Homo sapiens: one gene and its partner. The protein of the gene in region 1 interacts with the protein of each later gene in a pairwise test. Each region holds a gene or a part of one and is shown in the gene's direction. Other genes may lie near its edges.

Region 1 (7,712 bases):
AAAAAATAATAATAATAACCAGCCTGGGTAACATGGTGAAACCCCGTCTCTACAAAAAATGCAAAAATTAGCAGGGTGCGTTGTTGCACACATGCCTGTAGTCCCAGCTACTGGGGAGGCTGAGGTGGGAGGATCACTTGAGCCAGGGAGGCAGAGATTGCAGTGAGCTGAGACTGTACCACTGTACTGCAGCCTGGGTGACAGAGTGAGACCCTGTCAAAAAAAAAAAAAAAAAGAGAGAGAGAAAGAAAGAAAAAGAAAGAAAAGAAAAGAAAGAGAAAAGAGAAGAGAAAGGGAGGGAGGGAAACCTTCCTGTGTGTCCCCTGTGCACCTCCCTCTTCGAGCATCCTTACAGCTCTGGGACTTGCCCAAACCTTTCTCCCCAAACCACACACCCACAGAGTCTGGAGCAGGGCCGGAGTTTCCCCGGCTCCTCGGGTGTGTCAGCATCACACATCCCTCCCTGTCTCCCTGCTGCCAACCAGTTCCACCACTGTGCACCTCTGCCCCAATTCCACCTCCCACGCCTGCTGCTGCACCTTGGACTTGTTTTCCTGAAATTGCATGCCATCCACTCTCCCTTCTACTTCTGCTGCGTCCCTCTTGCCCTATCAGGACCTGTGGACTCAGGACTCCCGGGCTTTCTCCCCCATCTCTCTTCCCCGTTGGGCCTCACTACCATTTCAGCCACTTTCCTGGCAGCTTCACTCCTGCCCCAAGACCCCAGCCTCCACCCTCCTGGTTCTGCCAACTGTTGAGTGCAGAAAGATCACAGAACTCCAAGGATTTGGAGCTCAATGATTTCAGGGGCTCACTGGCATTCCCCTGCTCTGCCTAGAAATCCTTCCTGTGTCCTGGCCACACCCCCCTCCCCGGCGCCACCACAGCTAGTCCAGAAATTCCCCTGCCTCACAAGAACCCACTTCCTCTCCTCCCCTGTCCCTCCCGGCTTATTGCTTTATGAGCCAGCTAGAATCGAGGCCACAGGCAGCCGTTCTTCCTCCTACCATCAGACACTGAAACGGCCACCGACCATCAGACACTGAAACGGCCACCGTTAGCTCCTTCCTCTAGTCTAAGAGGAAGCGGGGTCCCTCCTACCTAAGGGGTTACCACAGTTCTTCCCTGTCCACATATAAGGTGTTCAAGCCTCCTCTATATGGAAATAATAGTCTCAATGACAAGAAGTCATCTTCTACACTAGAGTCTGACCTACCTGCCCATGACCTTCCCTCCCTTTGCAGACAAACCTCCTAAAAGAACATCTGTGCTCCGTATAACCCCTTCCTCTTCCCAGGCCTCACCCCACTGCATTCTGACTGCTTTTTATAACCCAGGCCCTTCTTCTTTGCTCCAGGTTCTTAATCTTTTTTTTTTTTTCCTGAGATGGAGTCTCGCTCTGTCACCCAGGCTGGGAGTGCAGTGGCACGATCTCTGCTTACTGCAACCTCTGCTTCCTGGGTTCAAGCGATTCTGCCTCAGCCTCCCTAGTAGCTGGGATTACAGGTGCCCGCCACCACACCCAGCTAATTTTTGTCTTTTTAGTAGAGACAGGGTTTCACCATGTTGGCCAGGCTGGTCTTCAGCTCCTGACCTCAGGTGATCCGCCTGCGTCAGCCTCCCAGAGTGCTGGGATTACAGATGTGAGCCACTGCGCCTGGCCTTTTTCCTTTTTTTTTCCTTTTTTTTTTTTTTTTGAGACAGAGTCTCATTCTGTTTCCCAGGCTGGAGTGCAGTGGCGCAATCTTGGCTCACTGCGACATCCACCTCCCCGGTTCAAGTGATTCTCGTGCCTCAGCCTCCCAAGTAGTCGGGCCTGGGTAACTTTTGTATTTTTAGTAGAGACAGGGTTTTCGCTTGTTGGCCAGGCTGGTCTTGAGCTCCTGGCCTCAAGTGATCTGCTTGTCTTGCCCTCCCAAAGTGTTGGGATTACAGTGTTGGGAGCCACCGCGCCACGCCCCGATTCCTCTCTGACCTGTGTCAGCACTGGGGCTAACAGAAGCTGAGACACACAGGCAACCTCATGTTTCAAATGAGTTCATTGCCTAAGGGTAGCCTGTATAGACAGCTAGGCAGGATGACACCCTGAATTCTGCCCTCAGGCTGTGCTATAAATGACCTAGACTAGAGGAAAGGGCAGGCAGAGCCTTTATCTCAAACAGCGTCAAAAGAAAACAATGTAATAGCCTAGAACATTGAATCTATTTATTTACTTATTTTGAGACAGAGTCTCACTCTGTTGCCCAGGCTGGAGTGCAGTGGCTTGATCTCGGCTCACTGCAACGTCTGCCTCCCAGGTTCAAGCGATTCTCCTGCCTCAGCCTCCCGAGTAGCTGGGTTTACAGGTGCCAGCTACCACACCTGGCTAATTTTTGTATTTTTAGTAGAGACGGGGTTTTGCCGTGTTGGCCAAGCTGGTCATGAACTCCTGACCTCAGGTGATCCACCCATCTCGGAAATCTATTTATTAAAGTGCTCAGAGAGCAGAAAGAGCATGAGTGCAAAAAATTTTTTTAACTTTTTTTTTTCTCTTGCAAGCTATGACTGGGGAAAAAAGAAAGAAAAAAAAAATGTCAGCAATGCACAGTGGCTCACGCCTATAATCCATGCATGTTGGGAGGCCGAGGCGGGCAGATCACTTGACCCCAGGAGTTTGAAACCAGCCTGGGCAACATGGCGAGACCCCATCTCTACAAGAAATACAAAAATTAGCTGGGTGTGGTGGTGCGTCCCTGTAGTCCCAGCTCCTCAGGAAGCTGAGATGATCACCTGAGCCTGGGAGGTGGAGGCTACATTGAGCCATGATTGAGCCACTGCATTCCAGCCCAAGTGACAGAGCAACACCCTGTCTCAAAAAAAAAATTTTTTTTTTTAGGTGGAGTCTTGCTCTGTTGCCCAGGCTGGAGTGCAGTGGCGTGATCTTGGCTCACTGCAACCTCCACCTCCTGGGTTCAAGCAATTCTCCTGCCTCAGCCTTCCAAGTAGCTGGGATTACAGGCATGCACCACTACACGCGGCTAATTTTTGTATTTTTAGTAGAGATGGGGTTTCATCATGTTGGCCAGGCTGGTCTTGAACTCCTGACCTCAAGTGTTCCACATGCCTTGGCCTCCCAAAGTGCTGAGATTACAGGTGTGAGCCAGTTCACCTGTCAAAAGAAAGAAAATTTTTAAAAAGTCTCTCGGAGATGTCTTTCCTGTTTGGTGCCACCTGAATAGTGGCAAACCTTTCCATTATGTATCAGGTCACCACCGCATCTGCTAGAAGCCCCCCTCGTCCAGGGTGGGATGACCTGCTCCTATAAAGCCAAACTTACCGGGAGCTCAGTCTCTTGGATTTTTAAAATATGGGTGTCTCTTTTCCCCGGTTCCTGATGACATTGTGTCCCAAGGTGCCAAGGGGGCCTTTCCCTCAGTCCAGAGGGGTTTTCTGACCACCTGCTAAGTTCCAGACACGGGCCGACTGTGCATGACAGGCCCACGGTTCTAGGCCCAAATACTCAGTTGCCTTTGCCCCATATGCTGTTATTGTCCACATCACTTGCTGCCAAAACCCAGGACTGAGCTGTGGAGGGAACAGCTGGAATGCACCTTGGAGGACGTTGTTGACACGCCGCTCAGTCGCCGTTCGTGCCCTGGTGTTTGTCTTGCAGACAGAGGCTCCGTGGTGAAGGCGCGCGTGCTGACCTGTGTGGAGGGGATGAACCTGCCCTTGTTGGAACAAGCCATCCGGGAGCAGAGACTGTACAAGCAGGAGCGGGGCGGCAGCCAGTAGGAAACAGCAGCCTAGCAACACCCTCACCTGCTTCAGAGCCCGAACCCTCTGGAGCTGCAGGAGCCCGGGAGAGCACAGACGCCTCCCCAGCGACGGCCTTGTCTGGAGCTCGAAAGCCGAGGGGCGGGTGATGAATCCAGCCCCTTCCCCTACTTTGGGATTGGCTCAGCAATGAGAACCCAGAAAGCATGCCATAAATCCGACAGCCCCACCCCAGGAGACTGCAGGTGGCCGAGCTTGGGCGCCGGGGCCGTGCTTGGTGTGGGGCCATGGAGGGTTCCAGAAGGTCCTGGTGAATAAAGGCCCAGGGGGCGTGCTCTTGAAGTGTGCTCGTGGTGCAGCGCCGGCGGGGGCCAGGAGGGGGAGCTGCAACCCAGGCTGTGGGCTGCAGCCTCTCAGGGCTTCTGGTGAATTCTGGGCCTGGGGCCTCAGGGTAGGGCACCAGGGGCCCAGGGGCTGGGGTGGGGGGCCCAGGATGCAGGGGTCTGCCCCTGGCCAGGCTCTGCCTTCAGAGGAGGCTGAGCGTCGTCACACGGGCCGGGCTGAGGCCCTGGGCCCTGACCGTGCAGCCTAAGACAGGACTGTGGCTTTAAGACCCTCCTGACCCCTGACCTCTGCCCCCAGTGGCCCTGGCCCCTGGGCAGCCCTTCCTGGCCGCCATGTGTACCCAGAGCCTGGGACTGGCTGGGCTGGGCAGTGACCCAGGTGGGAAAGGGTGGTCTTGCCCTCTAAGGCCCGGCACAAGTGAGAGGCCTGGGGGTCCATGTTGGGCTGGGCTGGGCGAGGGGTGGTCTCTGACTTCCTGGGGGTTCTGGCTGGGATGGGCAGGGGGCTGGGTGGGAGAGTGTGGGCCCTGCCCTCCGAGGCCGGGCATGGGCGAGAAGCCTGGGGGTCCTGGCTGAACTGGGCTGGGTGAAGGGGGCCCCCTGACCCCCTTGGGGTCCGGGCTGGGCTGGGTGAGGGGCGGTTTCCGACCCCCAGCCAGGTTCCCAGGCAGGATGAGCTGGGGTTGGGGTGGCTAGGCCGTGGGCCTTGGGAGCTGGGCAGTCTGGGCTGGGCTGGGCTGGGCAGGGCGCCACATGGAAGCTGGAGGAGCAACGGGAGCGCTGGGCGTGGGGTGCAAATTGCCCGGTGCCTTCTGTTTCCCAGGCAGCTCTGTGGCCATGGATATGTTCCAGAAGGTAGAGAAGATCGGAGAGGGCACCTATGGGGTGGTGTACAAGGCCAAGAACAGGGAGACAGGGCAGCTGGTGGCCCTGAAGAAGATCAGACTGGATTTGTGAGTGCTGGGACGGCCCCTGAGTTACCCACCCTGGGCCATCACAACCTGGGCGCTCCCTGATCCGTTCCCTCTTTCCTGGAGTCCACGTTTAACTCCTCTGGGTGCTGCCCAGCAGCCCTTACCTGTCCTCTCCCCAGTTCACTGCCTTCTGACCAGCCTTTGCCGGGGCCCTGACTGTGGAGTTTGGTGGATGACGTGCCAAGGAGCACAGGTCTCCATTGCCGGGGCCCTGGTCATTCTGTGGGGTTAAGGAGAAGCCGATCCCCCTGGCTGGAAGTGCCCTTCTTGGCCCAAGTCTCTGCCCACGGCTGTGCCCTTGTTTCTTGCAGGGAGATGGAGGGGGTCCCAAGCACTGCCATCAGGGAGATCTCGCTGCTCAAGGAACTGAAGCACCCCAACATCGTCCGGTGAGTTGGGGATTGAGGTGGGGAAGCTGGGATGGCGAAGGTAGCATCCTGACTGCCATCTCCCTGTCAGACTGCTGGACGTGGTGCACAACGAGAGGAAGCTCTATCTGGTGTTTGAGTTCCTCAGCCAGGACCTGAAGAAGTACATGGACTCCACCCCAGGCTCAGAGCTCCCCCTGCACCTCATCAAGGTAGGGAAGGAAGGGCAGGGAAGGAGAGGTGACACCCCATCCCTGCCATCCCTGTCCACGCAGCACCTCCGCTCAGCTGGCTGCACCTCGCGCTCGTTTCTCCAGAGCTACCTCTTCCAGCTGCTGCAGGGGGTGAGTTTCTGCCACTCACATCGGGTCATCCACCGAGACCTGAAGCCCCAGAACCTGCTCATCAATGAGTTGGGTGCCATCAAGCTGGCTGACTTCGGCCTGGCTCGCGCCTTCGGGGTGCCCCTGCGCACCTACACCCATGAGGTATTGTGAGACAAAGAGGAGAGAGGGGCAGCAGGAGGAGTGTCACCCATGCACTCAGCCACCCTGAGTGATACTGTTTCTTTGCCCTGCAGGTGGTGACACTGTGGTATCGCGCCCCCGAGATTCTCTTGGGCAGCAAGTTCTATACCACAGCTGTGGATATCTGGAGCATTGGTTGCATCTTTGCAGAGATGGTAGAGAGAGGGGCACACATGGCCACAGGGTGCCACAGGCAGGGTCCTACTGGGGTTGGGTGGGGTCCACTGATGCTCCCATTCGAGGCGGATTAAAGAGTGTTTGGGGCTGGACATGGCTCACGCCCGTAATCCCAGCACTTTGGGAGGCTGAGATGGGAGGATGGCTTGAGCCCAGGAGTTTGAGACCAGCCTGGGCAACGTAACAAATCCCCAGCTCTTAAAAAACTACAAAAATTAGCTGGGTGTGGTGGTGCATGCTTGTAGTCCCAGCTACTTGGGAGGTTGAGGCAGGAGGATTGCTTGAGCCTGTGGTTGAGGCTGCAGTGAGCTGTGATCGCACGACTGCACTCTAGCCTGGGTGACAGAGCAAGACTCCGTCTCTATTTTTTAAAAAAAGGTGTTTGGTACTGGCTAAAGGACTGAGGAAGGTAGCTTTATTCCAAAAGAGGCCAGAATTCTTTGCACAGTCATGGAAAAGATATCTTGACAGGCCTCTCCCTGGGTCTGGCCACTTATCTGGTATTGGATTCTGTATAACAAAGTGGCGGACCCCACACCTTCTCTTCTTCCCCATTTCAGGTGACTCGAAAAGCCCTGTTTCCTGGTGACTCTGAGATTGACCAGCTCTTTCGTATCTTTCGTATGCTGGGGACACCCAGCGAAGACACATGGCCCGGGGTCACCCAGCTGCCTGACTATAAGGGCAGCTTCCCTAAGTGGACCAGGAAGGGACTGGAAGAGATTGTGCCCAATCTGGAGCCAGAGGGCAGGGACCTGCTCATGGTAGGTGCATGTGGGCTCCAGCTGCTGCTCCGACTACAGTTTCCCCTCATCAGCCAGCCTCTTACATAACCCTGGCACTTTCTGAGTCCAAGGCCAGGGTCTCTTTCCTGACCTTTGTACACAACTGGCTTGGGTATACTGATTGTTCAACCCGGAAGCCTCCCCCAGGATAAGTGCAGTATTTATCTTCCCTGTGAAAGTGGCGCTCATTGAGTTAGCTCTGTCTTTATGCTGTGCTACACGCCCTTTTTCCCTAGTTGTCTTGTGTGTTTGGTTATTCTACTTTGTGGACATTACTGCTCCATCTAAGCTGTATGCCTCCCCAGGCTGGGGCCATACCTTCTTTTCTTTTCTTTTTTTTGAGATGGAGTTTTGCTCTTGTTGCCCGGGCTGGAGTGCAATGGCGTGATCTCAGCTCACTGCAACTTCTGCCTCCTGGGTTCAAGTCATTCTCCTGCCTCAGCCTCCCGAGTAGCTGGGACTACAGGTGCCTGCCACCACGCCCAGCTAATTTTTGTATTTTTTTTTTTAGTAGAGACAGGGTTTCACCATGTTGGCCAGACTGGTCTTGAACTCCTCAGGTGATCTGCCCACCTCGGCTTCCCAAAGTGCTGGGATTACAGGCATGAGCCACTGTGCCCGGCTGGGGCCTCTCGTTCTACTGCCTGGCTGTTCCCCTGTGACTCCTACAGTGGTCAGTCTTCAGAACAGGCTGTTCCCTACTGCCTGGGCCCATGCCACAGTTCTCACTCACCCCTCCTGTTGGTGTCTTGAGCTGACCCAGGCCGGACTGCCCAGGAAG
Region 2 (7,935 bases), on another chromosome or scaffold:
CCATGCCCGGCTAACTTTTTGTATTTTTAGTAGAGATGGGGTTTCGCCATGTTGGCCAGGCTGGTCTCAAACTTCTGGCCTCAAGTGATCCACTCACCTCAGCCTCCCAAAGTGCTGGGCTTACAGGCATGAGGCATCACACCCGCTCACTGTCTTTATTCTGATAGCTGTTTCTCATGTGCTTCCTTATGCTGCTCCTCTTTGATTTGAAGCAAGGTATAGTTTAATTTCAAGATTTAATATTCTAGTCATGAAATAAAACAAGTCTGAAATCCTTTTCCAGTAAAAATCTACTCTTTAGACACACAAATAACTGCATATTAGATTTTTAAAAATATTTAAGATTAAACACAAGCCAAAAATCACCACAAGGTGACTATTTTTGTCCTAAAATTTACTGCAAGCCAGAAACTTCTAAGGGAGAGGCAGTAAAGAGTAGTGATTAAAAACATACCATGCTTTGGAGATAGTCAACCTGGGTTTGAATCCTGGCTGTGCCCCTCTAAGCTATGTGATGAATATTGGGATTTACTTTACCTCTTTATCTTTTGTAAAATAGGAACAACAAAAATACCTACTATAGAGGAGTGCTGTGGGGATAAACACAAAAGAATGCAATAAAAATGCTTAGTATAATGTTTGCTACATAGTGAGTGATCAACATGTGTTAGTTATTATTATTCTCTCTCTCCTTTTTTTTTCAGATACAGGGTCTTTCTGTGTTGCCCAGGCTGGTGCAAACTCCTGGGCTTAATGATCCTCCCAGCTTGGCCTCCCAAAGCAATTACAGGCATGAACTACCACACCTAGAAATGCCGTGTAGAATGGTAGTCTAACTTTACTATTTAGAATTACTAAATAGAAGTTATTTACCAATACGCGGATAATATGTTCTCTTTATATATCTTATTTATTTTCTCAGGGAATTTCATAAACTTTCGATTTTTTACAACTACAATTAATTGTAAAAACAATTATTAGTTATTAAAAAAAATATGGCCTGGCGCAGTGGCTCAAGCCTGTAATCCCAGCACTTTGGAAGGCCGAGGCAGGTGGACTACCTGAGGTTAGGAGTTCGAGACCAGCCTAGCCAACATGGTGAAACTGTCTCTACTAAAAATACAAAAATTACCCAGGCACGGTGGCACACCTGTAATCTCAGCTACTCGGGAGGCTGAGGCAGAAGAATTGCTTAAACCCGGGATATGGAGGTTGCAGTGAACTGAGATTGCACCATTGCACTCCAGCCTGGGTGACAAGAGAGAGACTCTGTTTCAAAAAAAAAAAAAAGTGAATTAAAGTATGGTCTTACAAATGGATACTGAAGAACAAGAATGTCCATATTGGCTGTGCACAGTGGCTCATGCATGTCATCCCAGCACTTTGGGAGGCTGACGTAGCTGGATTGCTTGAGCTCTGGCATTCGAGATCAGCCTGGGCAACATGACAAAACCCCGTCTGTACAAAAAATACAAAAGTTAGCTGGGCATGGTGGTGCACACCTGTATTCCCAGCTAGTTAGAAGTCTGAGGTGGAAGGATCGCTTGAGCCTAGGAAGTTGAGGCTGCAGTGAGCTGAGATCGCACCACTGCAACCTGGGTGACAGGGTGAGACCTTGTCTCAAAGGAAAAAAAAAAAAGAAAGAAAATATCCATACTTTTTGTTCAGACAACTGCAACTAGTTACTTACCCACCTATTAATTACTTGTAATTATATTTATAGTAGATTAAATTGTCACTGGCAATCTCATAGGCAGTAAGATAGTTTTAATAAGGATAAGTATATAATTAAATGGGAGCTCTTAAAGACTCCTGGTAACATTTTAATTGGTTTAATCTTCTGCCTTGCAACTGGCAACTGGTATTCAGTAAAAGCCATAAAAACATAATATTGTTGGACCTAGGAATAGCCCCAAAGAGGTTATGAAGATGTTAATTGAATTATTTTTGTTTTTCATTTTTTGGGTAGCAGCTTTATTATAATTCAAACACCATAGAAGTAATACATTTAAAGTGTACAATTCAATGGTTTTTAGTACAGGTTGCATATCCCTGATACAAAAATCTGAAATGCTCCAAAATCCAAAGCTTTTTGAGTGCCAACATGACACTCAGAGGAAATGCTCATTTTGGATTTTCAGACTAGGTTGCTCAACCAGTAAGTATATAATTTAATGCAAACATTTCCAAAACTGAAAAAAAAGTTTAAAATTCAAAATACTTCTGGTCTCAAATATTTTGGATAATACTCAACCTAAATATTCACAGTTGCGCAACCATCAACACAATCAATCTCAGAACATTTTTCTCACCTCAAAAAGAAACCTTCAAAAAATCAGTTGGGCATGGAGGCATGCGCCTGTGGTTCCAGCTACACAGGAGGCTGAGGCAGGAGGATTGCTTGATCCTGGAGGTCAAGGCTACAGTGAGTCATGTTCACACCATTGCACTCCAGCCTGCAGCCTGGGGGACAGAGCAAGGCCCTGTTTCCAAAAAAAAAAAAAAGAAAAAAAGAAAAGAAAAAAAGAAAGAAACCCCCATATCATTTAACTATCATCCCCTAATCCCATGCCTGCCCCTAGCCCTAAGCAACCACTTCCTTACTTTCTGTCTCTATATATTTGCCTATTCTGGACATTCACGTAAGTGGAATCATATAATATGTGGTCTTTTGTGACTGGCTTCTTTCATTTAGCATACTGCTTTCAAAGGTTATGCATGTTATAGCATGTATTAGTATTTTCTTTTTATGGCCCAATAAGATTCCATTGTATAGGTCGGTGTGACGGCTCATGCCTGTAATCCCATCACTTTCAGGCTAAGGAGGGAGAATTGCTAGAGGCCAGGAGTTTGAGACCAGCCTGGACAACATAGGAAGTCTCATGGCACCCCCATCTGCGCCACGGAGCCAGACCCCATCTCTTAAAAATAAAAATTTGATTGTACATAGATGTATCACATTTGATTTATACAGGCGCCAGCTGATGAACATTTAGGTTGTTTCATCTTTGGCTATTATGAATAATGCTAACGTTTGTAAAAAAGTTTTTGCATGGACAAATATTTTCCTTTCTCTTGGGTATATATTTAGGAGTGGAATTTGCATTATTCTTATTGGAGTGAAAATCAGAAGCAATTTCATGGTCTAACAATGGAATTATGTTACACTCTCAATAGTATTATGCAGAAATGCTACAGTCTCAAGAGTAACATGCAGAAAAATGGTGGCTTTTTTGAATGAAGACCATATAATAATAGGCTACATGAAGTGAAAAAAAGAAAAAAAAAGGATACAACCCACTTGAAATCCTCCTAGGGCTTCCCATTCCTTCTTCTGTTCTATGGCATCTGTCCTCTGCTTCCACATCCTGCCTCAGTTGTCTGAGGGCCAGCCACACTAGCTTTCAGAGATTTTTAGAACGTCTCAGCTTCGGAGCCTTTTCACATAACTTCCTCTGCTTGTATCATTCTTTGCCCAGTGGTTTCAAGTCTCATCTTAAATGTCACTTCTTCAGAAAAACCTTCTCTGATATCCCAAACCAGGCGGAAAGGCAAGCGTTTCCACAGCAGCCGGCGATTTTCCATCTTAACGGTTTTAATACCAGAATTGTTTACTTGGTCAAATATTGAGAGCCTTTTATACACAGGGATAGAGGGTGAAACATGCAAGATCCCTGCCGCCTGCGACCTTATATTCTAGGGAGGGGATACATGCACAAGTAAACAAGTAAATGTACTTGGTAATTTTACATAGTGATAATTAGCTCAATGGTTATCCTCTGTTTGGACTGTAAACTCCATGAAGGCAGGAGCTATGTCTGTCTTGGCTACTTCCAGTTTGCTGAGTCTGGCCACTAAATAAACTCAACACATATTTTTTCACTGACAGTTAAAATAACTATATAAAAAACAAATGGAAAAAACAAACGAGACTTCTATAAATGGTTGAGATCTAGCTCTTCCTCTTTCAAAACTCTGTAATACTACATATTTTTAAATAATTAAAACAATCAAAATAGCAAAAAGTTACCGTTTGTACTAACAGAACCCCAAATAAAACCCATTTATGTCACCACACATTCTTTAAGCACCTGGTAATAAAACCTATTCGGAAATACTCAGACGTGTTGGTTGAGTGGATAAAATCCCCTTGCCACATTGCCAAGCAGGTTCCTCGCCGTCAGCAGTATAATTTACAGTGTTTCACTGAGGCCTTAAGCACCCATGATTTGATTCTCCCTAATTTTCCGATTCCTAAAACCCTTTAGAATCTCCCTCCACCCACACAATGTGGCAGTGAGAAAAACCGCAATTCTATTTACATGTCAACGGTAAGAACACGTAATACTTTGCTAGGTCAACAAATCTGCAAGATCTCCACCCAAGAGATCAGTAGCCCCTTCCCAGTGAATCCTTCTAAGAGCCTGGGGACGAGTAGGGCTAGATAAAACCAAGCTGCTGTAAAGCTGGACCACAGGAGCGGATCGTGAAATCCCCTCCCCCAAGCGCAGCGCTCGGCCGCTTCTTTCTTCCCCAGGCGCATGCGCAGCGCACTCTCCGGCCACCGCACGCCCCCTCAGTGGGGGCCCAGAGACGCTGACGTCACCGTGCGGTCTGCAAGCAACCCTTCCGCTCCTTCAAGGAAAATGAGTCCACGGACCTTCGGCTTTTCTTAGCCACGAGAAAACGTCCTCCCTCCTTCCATCCTAGTGCCAACGACTTCCCCAGCCCGTCTCCTTTCGGCCGCACTTCTCTGTACTTTCGTTGGACCGGGAAGGCGGCGGGGAGGAACAGGAAGGGTGAAAGACCAAGTCCGCGTAGTTTACAAGGAGTGGGCGAGTCTAGGAATCGGTCCGCGAGGGCGGAGCCGAGGAAGCCGGCACTTCTTCCTCCCTTCCCCTCTCTTCCCCTCCCTCCCCAGCCTTCCCCGCGAGCGGACGCGGCAGCGCCTCTGTCTCGCTTTTTCTTATTTTTCCCCCCTTTCCCCTTTCTTTTTTTTTTTTTCTTTTCTTTTCTCCCCTCCCCCCCTTTCACCATTTCCCCTCGGAGGCGCTTTCCCCGGGCAGGGGCAGAGCCGGTCTCACCCCCCGCCTCTCCCCGGCCCCCGCCGCCCTATGGCGAGAGGGAGCCCCCTCCCAACCCGGGCTCGAGCGGCGGCGGCCTCAGGCCGGGGGTCATCATGGAACTAATTCGCTGACCGACCCAGCGGCCGCAGCCGTGCGTCCCGCTCGAGCGCCAGCGCCCGCGCCCGCGCCCCCCGATCCGCTTCCCCTTTCTCCCTCCTCAGTTGGCCGAGTCGTCCCGCGCGCACCGCCTCCGCGCGCCTATGAGAATGAGGTGGTAACGGGCCCCCGGATGACCCCGCGTCACCACTGTGAGGCCTACAGCTCTGCCGGGGAGGAGGAGGAGGAGGAAGAGGAGGAGAAGGTGAGGGGCGGGGGCGGGGGCGGGGGCTCGACGCGTCTCCGCGGCCGGCGTCGACGCGCTGGGGCCCCGCTGCTCCCCCCGCGCCGCCCCCGTGGCAGCGCCCTTGGCCGCGCGCTGCTCGCCGGAGACCCACCCTCCCGCATCCCCCAGCCCGGGGAACCTCGGGGCCGCCCTCTTCGTCCTCTCCGGCCCAGACAGACCCGTCACCTGCCCACTTGAAAACGGCACTACTGTGTTCCTTTTCGGGCCAGTTTTTCTGTCAGCGAGTAACTTTTTTTTGTGGCAGCGGCAAATTAGCTACTCTATAGTGCGTGTTGGAGGCTCTACGAGCCCGTGTTAATACACAAAGAAGGGGACACACCCCCACCCTCAGGTTGAACGATTCTCCGGGGACACCAGGAGGATTACTAACTTTGCACGGCAGACTGAATGCCAAATGAATGGGGTGAACCTCCGGTGCTGTGAAATTCGGGGGAGGGCAACGTTACCCAGGGCTTGGGGCGGGTGGGTGGGGGGAATCCGGGGGAGGTGAGATTTGAGTTGTGCTCTAAAGGCTAGATTAAATAACTGGAATTTGAAAGGAGGACAGAGGAGCCTCCGCTGGAGCTAGGGGGCTCCGTTACAGATCCTTTTGGCAGAAGTTGACAATTGGGTATCAAAACAGTGGAAGGTGTTTCGGGAGGTAGGATGGATTCAGACTCTGAAGGGGTTTGAACTAAAATGTTTATGTTTTATTCTGTCAGTGGGGAGCCACTCGACTTAGAGCAGCAGAGCATTACAGTAATGACGTTAAATAACAACATTTGATGAGGCTTATTATCTGCCAGGCATTCTCCTAAGTGGCTTGCAATTCACTTAATCCCCCCAAGGCTGGTAGTAGGAGCCTCATTTTACAGATGAGGAAAACTGAGACTCCACAAGATTAACTTTCTCCTTAGGTAACGCGGCTAAAACCCAGTAGCCAGAATTAAGTCTGATTCTACGCTGTGTGGTCTCTGTCCTGAAAATGAGTTTGTTGAAATAGCAGTGTTATCTGCTGCTAGCTTTTCCAGGTCATTTGTGGCAGATGAAATAGAAAGGATTGGACAAATAGATTAAGAAATAATGGACGGAATAGATGTAGATTGGCTAATCTGGGACCAGAGAATCTCCGAGAGATTCTGAGCCCCTCTACTAGAAATTTCTTGATACCGATGAAGGGCAGACTAATACAGTCAGCATGTGTTAGGGAAGTTCAGTAAAAATGATCTGCAGTTACAGGTAGTTTATGTGGTAATGTGACATCCTAGTAGGTTAGAATGGAGCTTAGCATGTGTGTTGGTCAAGATTGGAAGCTGAGTGTGTCCGTGTTTTGTTTTGATTGTGTAATACATTAAAAATGAATATTCATCTTCCTATGTATGTTTCTTCGTCTTTAAAATGGGCTTTATGGCTGAAATGGGGGTGTAGTAAGAAAAATAAAAAACTAGAAAAAAAGGGCTTTCCACAGTTTCATCAAATTGTGGGAACATTACATGAGTTAATATGGCATAGCGCTTTGAACAATAGGTAGTCAAATAGTAAGCACTCAGTGCTTTTACTTGTTAAGCTGTTTACAAGTGAAGCTATTAGGCATATGCTCAACTCTGGAGATTAACATCAAAGAATTCATTATTAGGAAAGGCAAGTTTACCAATAGTCTCAAAGCAACTAAATGTAAAGGTAGAATTATGTCCAAGTACAGATGTTGGAAGGCAGGGCACAACTGCACAAATCCAGAGAGTCTTACAGACTGATGGCTACTTTAGGAAGGGAAGTATGAGCTAGAGGACATTTCAAGTTGAAACAGCAGTGCTTGTACAGCCAGGGAGATTGGGAAAGAGCATACACTTGGAATTGCAAATACCTTTAATTCATTGTTTCTAGTGCATAAAGTCAAGGAGGGAATAGTAGAACTTCAGTTTCTTGTATGGCCACGTTAATCCCTCCTTTCAGAAGAGGAACTAAGATTCAGAAGTCAGCACTAGTACAGGATTATTAATGGAATTGGTGTGATGATGATAGCAAATACAATAATACATATTAGTGAAGTTGTTTATATTGTATACCCAGCACTGTGCAGCACTTTTCCTCAGAGGAGCAGGGGGCCCTGTATGTATATCTGTAATAGTTATGCTGTACAGTAAGCCTTTTATAAACTATTACCTCAGACATTAAGCTATTTGATAACCGTGGAGAAAGGAGAAGCGGCAGCAATTGAGAGGATGGGAGGAGAAATGTGAAACTGGCATAAAGTTTGATGTGTGTGGAATATGCCAACTAAAATAGTCTTTTGTTATTTCTTGCTTTTCTAAAAAAGCATGCAAAGTTGGATGTAACCAACAATAGGCATACAGTAACAAAACATAACTATATAGTTCTGTTAAAACTAAAATTGTATTTTAAATGTTTGCATTTTCTTAGCGGAATTTATTAATTCAACTCAAAATGTGCTTTACCCGTAGAAAATAGGCTTGTGCACTGTCAGTA

Evidence for each region. The genes of interacting proteins can lie anywhere in the genome.
Region 2: the proteins of CDK3 (region 1) and CCNI interact in binary tests that used the Homo sapiens proteins (3 or more experiments, as listed by UniProt).

What each region holds. Positions count from the first base shown.
Region 1 is NC_000017.11:75,996,489-76,004,200, forward strand, and holds the start of CDK3 (cyclin-dependent kinase 3), read left to right. Parts: upstream 1-4,366; 5' UTR 4,367-4,479; exon of another isoform or gene 4,480-4,923; 5' UTR 4,924-4,937; coding exon 4,938-5,053; intron 5,054-5,385; coding exon 5,386-5,463; intron 5,464-5,533; coding exon 5,534-5,654; intron 5,655-5,759; coding exon 5,760-5,930; intron 5,931-6,022; coding exon 6,023-6,124; intron 6,125-6,706; coding exon 6,707-6,910; intron 6,911-7,712. Other genes in the region: CST complex subunit TEN1, read left to right, coding at 3,653-3,774. UniProt on the Homo sapiens protein: Serine/threonine-protein kinase that plays a critical role in the control of the eukaryotic cell cycle; involved in G0-G1 and G1-S cell cycle transitions. Interacts with CCNC/cyclin-C during interphase. Phosphorylates histone H1, ATF1, RB1 and CABLES1.
Region 2 is NC_000004.12:77,072,964-77,080,898, reverse strand, and holds the start of CCNI (cyclin-I), read left to right. Parts: upstream 1-4,909; 5' UTR 4,910-5,355; coding exon of another isoform or gene 5,356-5,427; intron 5,428-5,988; exon of another isoform or gene 5,989-6,109; intron 6,110-7,935.